Homo sapiens: one gene and its partners. The protein of the gene in region 2 interacts with the protein of the main gene of each other region in a pairwise test. Each region holds a gene or a part of one and is shown on either strand. Other genes may lie near its edges.

The links.
Region 1: the proteins of GRSF1 (region 2) and GSE1 interact in a two-hybrid assay, tested with the Homo sapiens proteins (one study listed by BioGRID).
Region 3: the proteins of GRSF1 (region 2) and GTF2E2 interact in a two-hybrid assay, tested with the Homo sapiens proteins (one study listed by BioGRID).
Region 4: the proteins of GRSF1 (region 2) and UBE3C interact in a two-hybrid assay, tested with the Homo sapiens proteins (one study listed by BioGRID).

Annotation. Positions count from the first base shown.
Region 1 is NC_000016.10:85,612,141-85,616,121, reverse strand, and holds the start of GSE1 (genetic suppressor element 1), read right to left. Parts: upstream 2,801-3,981; 5' UTR 2,731-2,800; coding exon 2,724-2,730; exon of another isoform or gene 2,294-2,723; intron 592-2,293; exon of another isoform or gene 568-591; intron 549-567; exon of another isoform or gene 1-548.
Region 2 is NC_000004.12:70,833,368-70,836,988, forward strand, and holds part of GRSF1 (G-rich sequence factor 1), read right to left. Parts: intron 2,948-3,621; coding exon 2,791-2,947; intron 1-2,790. UniProt on the Homo sapiens protein: Regulator of post-transcriptional mitochondrial gene expression, required for assembly of the mitochondrial ribosome and for recruitment of mRNA and lncRNA. Binds RNAs containing the 14 base G-rich element.
Region 3 is NC_000008.11:30,613,197-30,616,817, forward strand, and holds part of GTF2E2 (transcription initiation factor IIE subunit beta), read right to left. Parts: intron 1,520-3,621; coding exon 1,412-1,519; intron 1-1,411. UniProt on the Homo sapiens protein: Recruits TFIIH to the initiation complex and stimulates the RNA polymerase II C-terminal domain kinase and DNA-dependent ATPase activities of TFIIH. Both TFIIH and TFIIE are required for promoter clearance by RNA polymerase.
Region 4 is NC_000007.14:157,208,357-157,211,977, reverse strand, and holds part of UBE3C (ubiquitin-protein ligase E3C), read right to left. Parts: intron 1-3,621. UniProt on the Homo sapiens protein: E3 ubiquitin-protein ligase that specifically catalyzes 'Lys-29'- and 'Lys-48'-linked polyubiquitin chains.

The DNA of each region.
Region 1 (3,981 bases), on a different chromosome or scaffold from region 2:
CTGTGCAGACTTGGCTCTTCCTGGGGCCGGCGATGCTGAGCCCACAGGCAGGCTTGGCTTCTGCTCTGAAACCACAAGGCACTCAGATCTGCAGCCCCTGAACTTCCCCCAGAGACAGGGAAGTGACTGCTGGAGGGGAGGGCTCATCGGGGCCATCGGAGGAGGCTTCCTGCTGTGAGCGCGGTGTCCGCCCCACGCCTGGCCCCAAGCCTCAGTTTGCCCCTTGTTCCTACCCCCAGTGTGTACGTTAGGATCAGCTGGGGAGCTCTGACAACCCCCAGACCCGGGTCAGGAACCCAGAGGCTGTGGCTTAACTGGGCTTGGAAAGGCCTGGCCAGCAGCAGTTTTAAAACACCGAGTTTGGAGATGTACAAGCCCCTTTGAACTCTGACACTCCAAGATCCTAAAAACTGTCCCAAACAGCTCAGAGCCTGCGCCACAGTGGACACCTTGTTGCCTTCCTTGTTTTGAGCTCAGCCTCACTGTGCCTAGAACTAGGACTTCCCGACCTCCCTTCCCAAGGCAGGGCTGACCCTAGGTCACCGGAGGCTCCTGGCGGGCTCTCACCAGCTCTGGCCCGGCACCGCCCCCAAGGCTCCAGGAAAGAAAACTCCAAGCGTCAAAACCGTGGTTGGCTCCAGCTTCCCCAGCTTCCCCTCCTGACTTTGGTGTCTGCTGCCAGAGTGACAAAAGCCATCCTCGCACCCGGCCCGCAGGAGATCAGGAACGCTGCCGACACGGGGCTGGCTGTCTCGGAAAGTCTCTTAGGAAGCACCGAGGTCGCTGCTCTCGCAGGCCAGGGCCTCTTCCAGCGCTCCTGAATCTACCTGGGCGGGGCGACTCCCTGCACAGCCGGCGGCCGGGATGACACACTTCGCCGTCGGAGCCTGCGCCCTGGGCCCCTCACCTGTGGCGTGGCGGCTGAGTCAGGCACAGCCTGTGCCTCAGGTTCTGCCGTCCCTGCTGGTGGAGGCGGCCGTAAACACAGGGTGAGCAACACTGAAGTGCCCCAAGCTTAAGCAACACCGAGGGAGGCCAGGGAAGGCTGCTCACCTGGGTTCCCCCTTCCACCCCTGCCGGGAGGCGGGAGCACGGAATCCCAGAGGAGAGGACGAGACGGCCGACCAGGGGGCACATTTCACAACGCCCCCACCAAGACCTTCTCTCTGCCCCTTTGTCCCCCGCCGCCTGGAAATCGGCTTAGGCGGGTTCGCTTCCACCCGGAGTGCGGCTGGGCCTTTTGTTCAGGCGCCTTTTACAAAAGGAGCCCTCTTTCCATTTGGTGGCCCCGCTTTTTGTTTCCAAACCCCAACCTGTGTGGCCGCTACCCCTCAGGCCCCAGATAAGGCACCGCAGCGGGGAGCAAGGGTTTAGTGTGTTTTAAACGCACTTTGTACAAAGGCTAGTTTGTAAGAGCCAAACCGACTCAACTCCGGCTGGCATCCACCGCCCAGCTGGGAACCCGGCAGGTGCTCCCCCACCGCCAGCACGCTGCCCTCGGAACTCAGACGGGCACTGCGGCCAGGCCCCCGGCCCACCACGTGGAAAGGGCGCAGCCTCCACTCCCCCATCTAATGAGGGTGTCGCGGTGTCCCTTCCCCCCATCTGGGAACCCCCTCCCTATGGCCTGCGCCTCGAGTCTCCACCGCACATTTCTAAGTGCCCCCCTGGTCCCCCACCCGGCGCTGGGGAGGGGAGGCGGAAAGCTGGGGGTGGGCGGGCGCAGGGAGGGTGAGCTCCACTCCCGCTCCGCCTCCATGAAGGGAATTTAATTAGCCTGCTAGAGAGGCGGGCGGGCGGCCGAGGAGGTGTCTCTGGTGCTGCAATATAATTGAATCGGCTCCACTCGGTCGGGCCACTCGCCGCCCATCAGCGCGGCCGCAGGGCCCGGGAGGGCTGGGGGCGGGGAGGCGCATCCAGGCGGAGCAGGAAGGGCCGGGGAGGGAAAAAGGCCAGTGCGGGTGGGGGGCGGCGGATGTGCAATCCCTCTCCCACCTCCGAGGCTGGGGCAGCCATCTTCTGCGGGGGGGAGGGGAGGGGCAGGGAGCCGCTCCGCCGGGGGTGGGGGGAGAGAGAGGAGAGAAGCGGCCGAGCCCGGGGCGCGCCCTTCCTCGGGAAGCAGGGCGTGGGGGTCACAAACCCGGCAGGCTGCGGTCCCGCCCTCCCGACCAACTCCCCCGAGACAAGGGGTCGGGGAGGGGGAGGGGAGCAAGACAAGAACCCTAACCGGCGCGGCCCCAGTAGCGAGCACCCCCCCCCCCCACACCCCCGCTTCCTCGGCCGTCGCCAGCACCTGCCGCGGGGGCGCACAGCCACCCCCATTCGCTCCCTCCCGCGTCGCCGCAAAGTTTTCATTCCAGCTCTCCAGCGCCCGCAGCTCTCGGAGACTCCCCCCGCCACCCCCATCCCCCCACTTTACCTGCCCTCTAGCCCGCACGCACTTAAACGCACCCCCCCCATCCCCCGCTGAGCGCACTCCTGAGCCCGGAGCCCCCGAGTCCCCGCCCGCAGCCAGGCCTCCCAGGCTGCGACCCGCGGGCGGAGGAAGGGGGTGGCCTTTGGTCGCCTGCCCGCCCTCCCGGCTCTTATCGCCGCTAACACTCCGGGGAAGTTGCCCGGGAGCCGTTGGCGGCCGCCCCCGCGAAACCCGCGAACTTGCAGGAGGACAGTGCGGTGGGGGGAGGGGGGAGGACCCCGTCCCCGGCCGGGTGCGGCGCGCTCACCTTTCATGCCAGGGCCCCGCAGCTCCACCTCGGCTGATACATGCTGGAGCCACCGTCGCCCAGTGTTTGTCTAAACTGCTTATCTCACCCGGGGCTGCTCGGCGGCGGCAGCTCGGGCCCGCTGGGGAGGTGGAGCTTCCGGGGCCCCGGCCAAGAAACACCTGCTGCTGTCGCCGCCGAGGACACACCCAAACGCAACGCCGCCCACTCCCGGGCCACTGGCTCGCTCCCGGCTCCCTGACCTCAGCCAGCGGGAGGTGTCGGGTTTCAGCCGCAAACACACAGGCGCGCGCGCGCGCACCGACGGGCGCCCGGATCCACCCGCCCAGGCACACGCCCCTCCCCGGCCCGGCCGGCCAGGTGAGCCGGGGACACCAGCGGGGCCGCGGAGGTGCCACCCCCACACTCTCGGGAGCCCCTGGCTGGACTGCTCGGGGGTCCCGGGGACCTTGGTGGCTAAGACCGGCCACTTAACTCTTAAAGTAGTGCAGCACCCTCGCCACGTGAGCGGAGCCCTGTCTCGCAGCTGCGTCCCGGGAACCTAGAACAGTGCCTGACACAGAGCAGGCCCAATAATGGGCGGACGGGTAACTCCGTGTCCTGGAGGCCTTTTGGAGAACAACTTTCTGGGCGCTGGTGGCGCGTGGGGTGGGGGGAGGCGACACAAAACAGACTGTGTACCCAAGCCCCACCCCCCCCATGCCTGACCTTATTACCCCAACTAGAAAAGGCTGAATACTAAGAACTTGGCCTCAAAATTCCATAAGGCACCCCACCCCCCAGTTTTAAGTAACTTTTGGGAAGGCCACAATTGCGGGCCGCTGCGGGGGGTGTTCTTTAAAGAACCCGCGGCCCAGGGGCTGGAGAACCCACGGAGGCGCCGCTTCGCCAGGGGGATCATTAAGTAGCTGGGGTTGCGGTCAGAGGCGAGGTCGCCCGCCTCCAGAAACTGGCACGACCCATTGCGCTTCTGGCCCCAGCGCAGCGCCTCCCCATTCCTGGCACCCCCCACCCTACCTCACCCAGGCACTTGACTGGAATGACTCAGGGAGCGTCCTGAAATTCCTGGGCACCCACAGGCGGCGCGGAGAGGGACTGAAGGCCCCAGCCTTCCCACCCCCCGGCTCCGCCCACCCCGCCCCGCCCCGCCCCGCCCCCACCCCATCGCGGCGGGCGCGTCCCCAGGAAGCTCGGGGTTAAAGGGGCGGGCCTCGGGGGCAGGGGTCGGCGAGCCTCCCCTGCCGCCTTCTGGCGCCCT
Region 2 (3,621 bases):
AGGAAACAAGTGTCATATTCCTTACACAAATCCCCATCACTGAAGTCATCCAAACACCAATAAGGATTTAGTCTCTAAAACCTTCCAAGTAGAAAAGATAAGCAAACCTTAGCACAGAAGCTTATGATCTCCTTCCTGATCATTAAATAGCAAATCAGGATAGGCCCAACACAAAATTCATTATTTCTATTGCAATGTTTCTACAATCACTTAAGGAAATACAATATAGTTAAATTTATACATAAGTGTCTTCCTTTAAAATCATCTCCATAGGTCTCTAAAATATTTCCTGTATGAGTAATTTTATTACCATAGTTTAACTTTTTGTTTTTGTAGAGAGGCGGTCTCATTTTGTTGCACAGGCTGGTCTTGAACTCTTGGGCTTAAGTAATCCTCCCACCTTAGTCTCCCAAAGTGCTGGGATTACAGGCATCAGCCACCACACCCAGCCTTTTTCCCCTTTTCATACTGCATACTTTTTATAATGGGAGTAGTCCAAGATGTAAGTGGCCAAGTGGCTTTAAAAAAAAGTTTGACCAGGCTCACTCTGGGCATACTGCCTAGGATTTACTCCTGCTCCACAAGGAGCAGCTAAAAAAATTAATGAAATAGCCAGGCATGGTGGTTCATGCCTGTAATCCCAGCCCTTTGGGAGGCCAAGGTGGTGGATCACCTGAGGTCAGGAGTTTGAGACCAACCTGGCCAACACGGCAAAACCCTGTCTCTACTAAAAATACAAAAATTAGCCGGGCATGGTGATAGGTGCCTGCTGTCCCACCAACTCAGGAGGCTGAGGCAGGAGAATCCCTTGAACCCGGGAGGTGGAGGTTGCAATGAGCCGAGATTGCGCTACTGCACTCCAGCCTGGGTGACAGAGCAAGACTCCATCTCAAAAAAATTAATAAAAATAAATCATAGTCAGATACAGAAACTAAAAAAAAAAATCCCACAGATATGTAAACCCTCCAAACATGTTATTAAGGGAACTTTATTCCTTGATACTAAGTGACCTTCTATTGTAAATGTCTGTATTACATAAAGAGTCACCCTTAATTCCATATTTCCACTGACAGGCTTGACTTTTTGATATGTATATATTAATACCACAGAGAAAAATAATTTCAAACCATGTAATTTTGTTTTTCAACTTTTATTTAGTACATGTATAGGACTGCTACATAGGTAAACCATGTGTTATGGGAGTTCGGTATACAGATAATTTAGTTACCCAGGTAGCAAGCACAGTACCCAATAGGTTTTATTTTTCTTTTTGAGACAGAGTCTCTCTCTGTCACCACGGCTGGAGTACAGTGGTGTGAACTCAGCTCACTGCAACCTCCGCCTCCCAGATTCAAGCGATTCTCCTGCCTCAGCCTCCCAGGTAGCTGGGACTACGGGAGCGTGCCACCACGCCCGGCTAATTTTTTTTGTATTTTTAGGAGAGATGGGGTTTCAACATGTTAGCCAGGATGGTCTCGATCTCCTGACCTCGTGATCCGCCCGCCTCGGCCTCCCAAAGTGCTGGGATTACAGGCGTGAGCCACCGCACTTGGACCCGATAGGTATTTTTTAATCTTCTCCCCAACCCTCAAGTTGGCCCTGGTGTCTTCTTGTTCCCCTCTTTGTGTCCATGTGTTCTCATTGTTTAGCTCCCACTTGTAAGTGAAAACATACAGTATTAAGTTTAATGTTCCATGTTAGTTTGCTTAGGATAATGGTCTCCAGCACCACCCACATTGCTGCAAAGCACATAATCTCACTCTTTGTTATGGCTACGTAGTATTCCATCATACCAGCCGGGCACGGTGGCTCACGCCTGTAATCCCAGCACTGTGGGAAGCCGAGGCAGGCAGATCACAAGGTCAGGAGATTGAGATCATCCTGGCTAACACGGTGAAACCCCAGCTCTACTAAAAATACAAAAAATTAACTGGGTGTGGTGGCAGTCGCTACTAGGGAGGCTGAGGCAGGAGAATGGTGTGAACCCGGGAGGCGGAGCTTGCAGTGAGCTGAGATCATGCCACTGCACTCCAGCCTGGCGACAGAGCGAGACTCCGTCTCAAAAAAAAAAAAACCTACATAGTATGATGGATTTTTTTTTTTTTTTGAGACAGAGTCTCACTCTGTCGCCCAGGCTGGAATGCAGTGGCACCATCTCGGCTCACTGCAAGCTCCACCTCCCGGATTCACACCATTCTCCTGCCTCAGCCTCCCAAGTAGCTGGGACTACAAGCCTGGGTAATTTTTGTATTTTTAGTAGAGACGGGGTTTCACTATGTTAGCCAGGATGGTCTCGATCTCCTGAGCTTGTGATCCGCCCGCCTCGGCCTCCCAAAGTGCTGGGATTACAGGCGTGAGCCACTGCGCCTGGCCCATACTATGCAGTCTTAACGTTAAAATACTTTTGTTGCATTCAAAGTCTTTATACATATGTAAATTGAGACAGTCTCACAGTGTTGCCCAGTGTGGTATGGAACTACTGGCCTCAAGCCATCCTTCCACCTTGGCCTCCCAAACTGCTGATTACAGGCCTGAGCCACTGCCCCTGGCCCAAAGTCTTTCAATTCGTTACATACCGCAAACAGCACACATGGTATCATTTGGTATATGCAACCAACCAGAATGAGACAGTTCCCAACCATCAAAAAGGAAGGTGACAGCGTAGTCTGACATGGATTTGTAGCACTACCTTTTACTCAGACAAAATTACATACTTAAAACATACATACCTGCTTGTGAGAAACAATATAAGGAAAAAAAATAAATAAATAAAACATACATAAAATATACCTGAAAAAAAGTTAAGCACATCTTCCATAGTGCATGACCAGGGCAGTCCTTGAGCTCGAATGAGAAAGACATCATCCACTTCCTCTTCTAACTTGGACGGGGCCAATTCATACTCAGGGGGTGGTGGAAGGTCTTCCAGGTAAGTAGTTTTGGACTCCTTCCAAAGGAAATGAAGAATTGTAAAAAGAGTTGCATTTACAGGTAAAAAATGTAAAAAAATTCTTAGAAAATGTTTATTCTACAAACTAACATTCTAGATGTTATTTCAGAAGCAAAAAGTAAACTTCACCAATGTAACCCATCCTGTTTTGGCTTAAATTGTACATCCAAAAGCCATAAGCAGGTATATCCTAAAGGTTTGGCAGGACACAAATTTCATTCAGGGTTTGTTTTAAAATTCATCAACCCCAAATTATAGCTAACAATAGTGTAGTTAAGGCAACACAAGAAAGGTCCTGACAATTTGACAAATATTTGATTGCCCCTACACACAGTGTTTGCCGCCCTCATCTGAAATAGCTATCTAGAATACGATAAGCATACAAGATGAGATACTGAGTGCTATAATTAAGATACAAAATACTACAGGAATTCAAATCAGAGCACTAACAGATGAATCAGGATGTGACATGAGATGGGCCTTGAAGGAAGGATAGAATTTTTATGAGGATATAAAAGATAGGGTATTCCAGTTTGAAGGCGAGAGAAAGAAGCAGTACGACCAAATGCCCATTTGAATAACAGCAATTAATTCCAACTGTTTAAATTAGGAGCCAAAGAAGGTGACCTGGCAAAAGAGGTTGGTACCATAGAGCAGAGGGCCTTGAGTGT
Region 3 (3,621 bases), on a different chromosome or scaffold from region 2:
CATACTGGCATTATAAAGTAAGGAACATAACCCTTACTAGTCAATGGTCTTCCCCATCTGCTATCAACTGGCAATGGCAGCTGTGGAAGGAACTGAAAAGGACCAGACTAGTGCATACAAGAACTTTACCTATAATGTCAGCTTGAGAATGAAACTGAGTAGGAATGCAGGAATTACTGAATATAATTATGTTTCTAGTCAGTTCTGTTGTACAGTTAGTATCAGAAGGAAAGCTCTTCAAAAAGAGCAACCCTATATATTTTCTTCTGCAGCTGCCAGCCTGACCCTGAAAGGAGAAAGAGAAGAAACACAGAAAGAAGAAAAAAGGGAGAATAGAATAGTAAAATGATCAAAGTCATTGTTAACTAAATGTTGGTAGTCTATGAATTCTCAAGGTTAGCTAAACCAGCAAATTTAAATGTGGATTACCATTGTTTGTGTATCACTAATACAATGAACTACAATTATACTGATTAATGGTCATGTTACATTATAAAAGTCAAGACCTGTATTTTGCTTGGTAAAAAAATAAATGAATTGTATGTTAGGAATTTTACATTTGGTTTCTAGAATCTATCTCTGGTCCTAGAAAGTAGTCTTCTTAGTTTTCACTTCATATTTTAAAGCGGTAAACATTTGAATTTTTAAATGCTATTCATTTCCAAATTAGCATGGTCACTGACTGCGTTGGGGTTTCTTCAAATGATGTGTGTTCATACACAGCATTCGCGACTTTTTTTCCACATCAAGCCATAATAGCAGTAATTGTGCAACAAAATATCTTCCTATCCCTGCAGTACCTTATGCTTTAAATTTCCTAAAACAAAAACAATTCAATTTACAAGCACACAAACTATAAATCTGGCAATACAAAATAAGCATTAATCTGTAAAAACATTAAGTCGAATTGGTACAATGACTTCTTTACAACTATTACACAAAGTCTTACCTTTAACATTTTGAAACAGATAACATAAAATTATATGAAAACCAACAAATCAATCTTATAAATGTGTACATTCAAAAAACAAAGACCCTACACCATTTCTTTTAAGAAAAAGTAAAAAGCATTATCAGATTTCACCATATTAAAACATTCTAGGCAAGGCGCAGTGGCTCATGCCTATAACCCCAGCACTCTGGGAGGCCGAGGTGGGCGGATCACTTGAGGTCAGGAGTTCAACACCAGCCTGGCCAACATGGTGAAACCCCGTCTCTACTAAAAACACAAAAATTAGCCTGGTATCGTGGCACATGCCTGTAGTCCCAACTACTCGGGAGGCTGAGTCAGCAGTGGGCTGAGATCATGCCACTGCACTCTAGCCTGTGCAACAGAGCAAGACTCTGTCTTAAAAAAAAAAGAAAATTCTAGTTACAGGAAATCTCTCTTGATAATCAACTAAATTCTTACCTCAGTCATTAGCCATTGTTTCTGCTTGAGTCCAATATCTAAATGTTGTGTTTCATCCAAAATTTCATCTAAGGTTAGAGGATGCGTATCTCCTCGCTGATGCCGTGTCTATCAAGTGAAGAAATTGTTATTAGAAGACAGTTTCAAAATGCTAGATGCATTAAATCATAGTTACATGTAAACAAACCTTCAGGAATGAAAAACATGTATTATTCCAGGTAGCATAATTATAGTGACGAAGAGCCATAGACCATGAAATCAGAATGGGGTTGAAACTCATTGCTCTATAAAATCAAAAGACAAACTGACAAAAAAATATATGCAACTCGTATCACCAAGAGCTATATTCTTCCTAACATTTCAAGAGCTTCAAAAAACTAACAAAATAGACCAGGCACAGTGGCTCATGGCTGTAATCCCAGCACTCTGGGGGACTAAGGCAGGTGGGATCACTTCAGGTCAGGTGTTCGAGACCAGCCTGGCCAACATGGTGAAACCCCATGTCTACTAAAAATATAAAAATCAGCCGTGCATGGTGGTGCATGCTTGTAATCCCAGCTACTTGGGAGGCTGAGGCAGGAGAATCGCTTGAACCTGGGAAGAGGAGGCTGCAGTGAGCTGAGATCATGCCACTGCACTCCAGCCTGGGAGGCAAGAGCAAGACTCTGTCTTGAAAAAACACAAAACTAACAGAAAATGACCCAAAGACAGAAACGCGCAGATTGCAAAAAATGACCTTAAACATAGGAAAAGACACTCAACTTTCACCAAACAATCCTATTTCTAGAAACTTATCCTACAGAAATACCAGTACCACACAGAAAAGTGACTTATGGTCACTGTAGCATTGTTCATAAAAGGAAAATATTAGAAATAACCCAAGCGTCCATATTAGAAGACAGATTAACTACAGCACATCCATTCCACTACACAGATGTTCACAAAGTAAATGTAAAAGTTCTCTATGTGCTAATTTGAAAAGATGTCCAAGACAAATTAATAAGTTAAAAAACATATGTATCATGCCTATCCAAAGAAAACACACACACACACGTAGATACCAAAAGCTAGAGAGGATGCAAAGGAACAGGAGCTGTCATTCATTACTGGTGAGTATGCTAAATGGTACAGCTACTGTGGAAGACAGTTCAGCAGTTTCTTACAACACTAAACACACTCTTACCATTTGATCAATCTAGCAATCACGATCCTTGGTATTTACCCAAATGAGCCAAAAAATTATGTACATACAAAAATCCACTAAGGATGCTTATTACAGCTTTATCCATAATTGCCAAAAGCTGGAAGCAACCAAGATGTCCTTCAGTAGGTGAGTGGGTAAATAAACCGTGGTATATCCAGACGATGGAATACTATCCAGTGCTAAAACGAAATGAGCTATCAAGCTATGAAAAAAACATGGAGAAACCTTAAATACATATTACTAAGGGAAAGAAGCCAATCTGAAAAGGATACATACTGTATGGCTCCAACTGTTGACATTCCGGAAAAGGCAAAAACCATGGAGACAATAAAAAGTTTAGTGGCTGCAGGCCAGATGCAGTGGTTCACACCTGTAATCCCAGCACTTTGGGAAAACGAAGCAGGCCACAAGGTAAGGAGATCGAGACCATCCTGGCCAACATGGTGAAATCCCATCTCTACTAAAATACAAAAAATTAGCCAGGCGTGGTAGCGGGTGCCTGTAGTCTCAGCTACTCGGGAGGCTGAGGCAGGGGAATCACTTGAACCTGGGAGGCGGAGGTTGCAGTGAGCCAAGATCAAGCCATTGCATTCCAGCCTGGCAACAGAGCAAGACTCTGTTTTAAAAATAAATAAATAATTTTAAAAATTAAAAATTAAAAAAAGTTTAGTGGCTGCCAAGGGTTGAGGGGAGAGGATGAACAAGCAGAGCCCTGAGAATTTTTAGGGCAGTGAAAATACTCAGGAGGATACTAGAGTGGTGGACATAGGTCATTATACACTTGTCCAAACCCACAGAAAGAACACCACTAAGGGTGAACTCATGTAAACTATGGACTTTGAGTGGTAATTTGTCAACGTAGGTTCATTGACTGTCACAAATGTACTCTTCTGGTGCAGGATGTTGATAGTGGAGGAAGCTGTGGGGGGATGGGCAGGGAATGGATGAGAATTCTGTATTTTCCAATCAATTTTGCTGTGAACCTAAAACTGCTCTAAAAAAAAAA
Region 4 (3,621 bases), on a different chromosome or scaffold from region 2:
TTTTCCTCAAGTGAGTCAAGTGCCAGATGACGCAGCAGCTGGTGCTTCTCTCCTGTGTGCTTCCACAGGACCGGCCTCTGTGGTTTGCTGTTTCCCACTGTCATTAGCTGAATGCATGTCTCCTTCACTACGTGGTGATACTGCAGGAACAGGCACCCTGTGTGAATTCATTTATGATCCCTTAGCATAGAGCTGTGTCACTATGGGTGGGATGAATACTGTGAGTGTTCAAATAACTGAGAATAAAACACTCTAACCTATGAAAGTCATGAAGTATCTGGTATGCACTGCTGCTGTCAAGGGTTAACCAAATTTTATATAGCCCTTAGTTACCACTTGTTAACCCATTTATGCCTAGTGTTCCATTACTGGAACGCTAAGCTTGTGGGATTTATATTCTACTGCTCAAGGTCATTGCCAAGGCCTGATTTTTCACACAAAAAATTCGCAACCTCTGGCACAAACGGGTTAAAAACTGGAGTATTTTGAAAAACAGTATTCTTCAGCACATATTTAAAACACTATAAAATTACTGCATATAGCATCCACTTTAGTAGTCAAAAAACAAAAACAAAATCAATCAAAATCTTCAATAACAGAAAAGGATAAGGCACAGCGCTACAAGCTTTGGATCTCTTGGTTGTAACATAGTCAAATGGTCGCATGTTAGGATTATATTAACAGGGCACTGCTGTTGCTTTATTACTTTTTAAAAATAGCTTTTTGGAACTGAAAAAATACAACTTAACCACTAAGGAAGTAAAAAAATCACTCATAGTATGGCTCTCTCTCTCTCTCTCTCTCTCTCTCCAGACATATGGATAATGAGGGCATGGGAACCTTCCTCCTCATTCCCTGCCACTTCCTCCTGTTTCCCTATCACAGGAGGAAACTCCTGTTAAGTTTGGTGGATGCACACAGACATCTCAAAACAGGATTTCCTATCTCATCAAGCTAAAGTAATTATAGCTCTAAATTACACTTCAAGAGGAGTTTATAAATTTGATAAATGCATAAACTGTTTTAGCAGTGTCAAGACAGGGCTTAGAAAGTGACCTCAATTCTTACAGTGACAAAGAAAGATGACTCTATCCACTTAAAATTCTATGCTCTGTGACCAGCCAGCAGAGCCTCTCACACAAATGACTTTGGGAGGACCATGATAGGACTGAAAAATGAAAATGGTCGGTGTTGAAGGAGTCAGGTCTCATCGTTTGCAATTCTGTCAAAATCAATGGAAGGCAGGAGATCATGGGCTAAACGCTTCTGCGTTCTTTGGTTGATTCTACCTCGAATTCTTCAACTCAAATTTGGCACAACAATAATATGAAAAATGCTGATACAATTTGTATTCTTTTCAGAAGGGGAGTGTAGAATAGCAGCTGGTTCTACCATCATATACATGACCTCATCTGTAAAACAAATTATAGTATCTTTCTCACAGAACTATTGTATTAAATGAATATATGCAAAACTCTTAGAATACTGCCTAAAACACAGTTAACTACAGAGGTGTAAGTTCATACAACTTCATAATAGAGATAGTATTTTCTTAAAAGAACAGCTAACAGCAGCTGATTACTCAAAAATTATGCAGTGATTTTTATTTTGGGGGCTCAGCTCAATAGCAGGTAGCATAAAATGGTTTGGGGGACAGGTGACCAAAGAACAGAAATCCTTTAAAAAAAAAAAGGTCTTTAAACAATTCTAAACTCAAAAGGTCTTACAACAACTTGATTTCAAACCTAAAACAATCACCACCACCAACAAAAAAAAGGTAAATTTTCACCCTCTTTTTTTTTGGAGAGAGAGTCACCCTACCGCCCAGGCTGGAGTGCAGTGGCGCTATCTCGGCTGACTGCAACCTCTGCCTCCCGGGTTCTAGCAATTCTCCTGCCCCAGCCTCCCTAGTAGCTGGGATTACAGGCGTACATCACGCCCAGCTAATTTTTTGTATCTTTAGTAGAGATGGGGTTTCACCATCTTGGCCAGGCTGGTCTCAAACTCCTGACCTCGTGATCCACCCGCCTTGGCCTCCCAAAGTGCTGGGATTATAGGCGTGAGCCACCACACCCGGCCTTGCCCTAACTCTTAAAACTTTCAATGATGAATAAAGTGGCAGGGAGTCATTTTGAGGCATAAAAAAATTCTGTACAAACTTTTCATTTAACGCTTAACCAAAACAAAATAAGGCCAGGGTGGAAAATATCTTATATGGCATTATTAAGTTCAGAGATTTCTACATACTAAAGATAAGCCTGTCATGGAAATTATGAAACTCTCAACAGATGCCATAAAACAGTGAAATTATCTGATATCATACACAACACCTGATATTGCACATCATGGAAAGCTTTATTAACAAAGACCCCAGGGTTTAATCAAATATTGAAAGGAAAACAAATATGCTACCGTTAACACCCACATCCAGGAAAAGCTTATGTAAGAATTATAAGTTTTAAATAGGTGAGACTGCTTATTTTTTAACATAGAAAAATTGCAAATTTGTCAATCTTTAAGAAAGGATATAGTAAAGGCTTACCATGTGACCGTCCCAGTTTACTTAGGAATACAGAAATAGGTAATTAAAATAAATTGTGCAAACATATATTACATCAATCTGCCCAAATTATAAATTCAACGATGCATTAGGACTGTATTCAGTGCAATCAAAACATTATCAGTTACGGCTGCTGCTGCTAATGCTCATGCTCCTAAGAGAAATGTGTTGTAAAACCAGGCAGAACGGGCTGGAGAGAGACTCTCGTGGACTTGGAGGATGAATAAGCATTCCTTAATTAGCCCATCAGGTTAAGTGCAAGCATTAATGGGCCCTTCCTAAAGTCTAGCTTGACATCTTTCTCCAAACATGGCCAAGAAGAAAGTTCCATTAGCAATATTAATACAAGCTTAGTTGATCATTTTCATTCAATTAACTTCTTTCAATTAAATAGATAGCTTGACAAAAGCAGTGATAAAAGACCCAAAGGGACAGCTGATGACTCGAACTGAACATTAGTGTGCGAGAGGTCGCTGGTATTAAACGGACTGTAAATCTAGCATTCAATTTGGAAAATGCATTTCTTCTGCTCTCACTCCTTTAATGAGCAATTTTAGCTGACTAGATGTGTTTGCTGCAGAAATTTCATGGGAAGTCAAGCACCCTTTTCCTTTTCTTTTTTTCCATCCCAACAGTTACATTCTCACTGGTGGTGGTTTCCTGCCAACATTCCAGCCACAGTAACTCAAAACTTCACTTTCTGGTTAAGAACGAAGATATGTTAAAATAATTTATATACAACTAGCATTAAAAATTAATGACCTACTTTACGTTGTTAATCAATTTTTGAAAGGTTTGAAAAAACAATAAAATCTAAGAAATATTTAGTGAAAAATAAAAACATTTTAAAAACTGTATTTATATTTCATCGTGTCACAGTTAAGTAGTTAGGGCCACATAGAAAAGATGCATGTAACAAGGTTTAAAAACATGGTTTTAAGTGAGGCAAATGTAAATTAAAATGAAAGTAATTTTAGTTAATTAAATTACCTTAATTAATCAAAAGTACTAAAATTACTTTTCTTAATTAAAAAGGTATATAGGCCAGCTGCAGTGGCTCA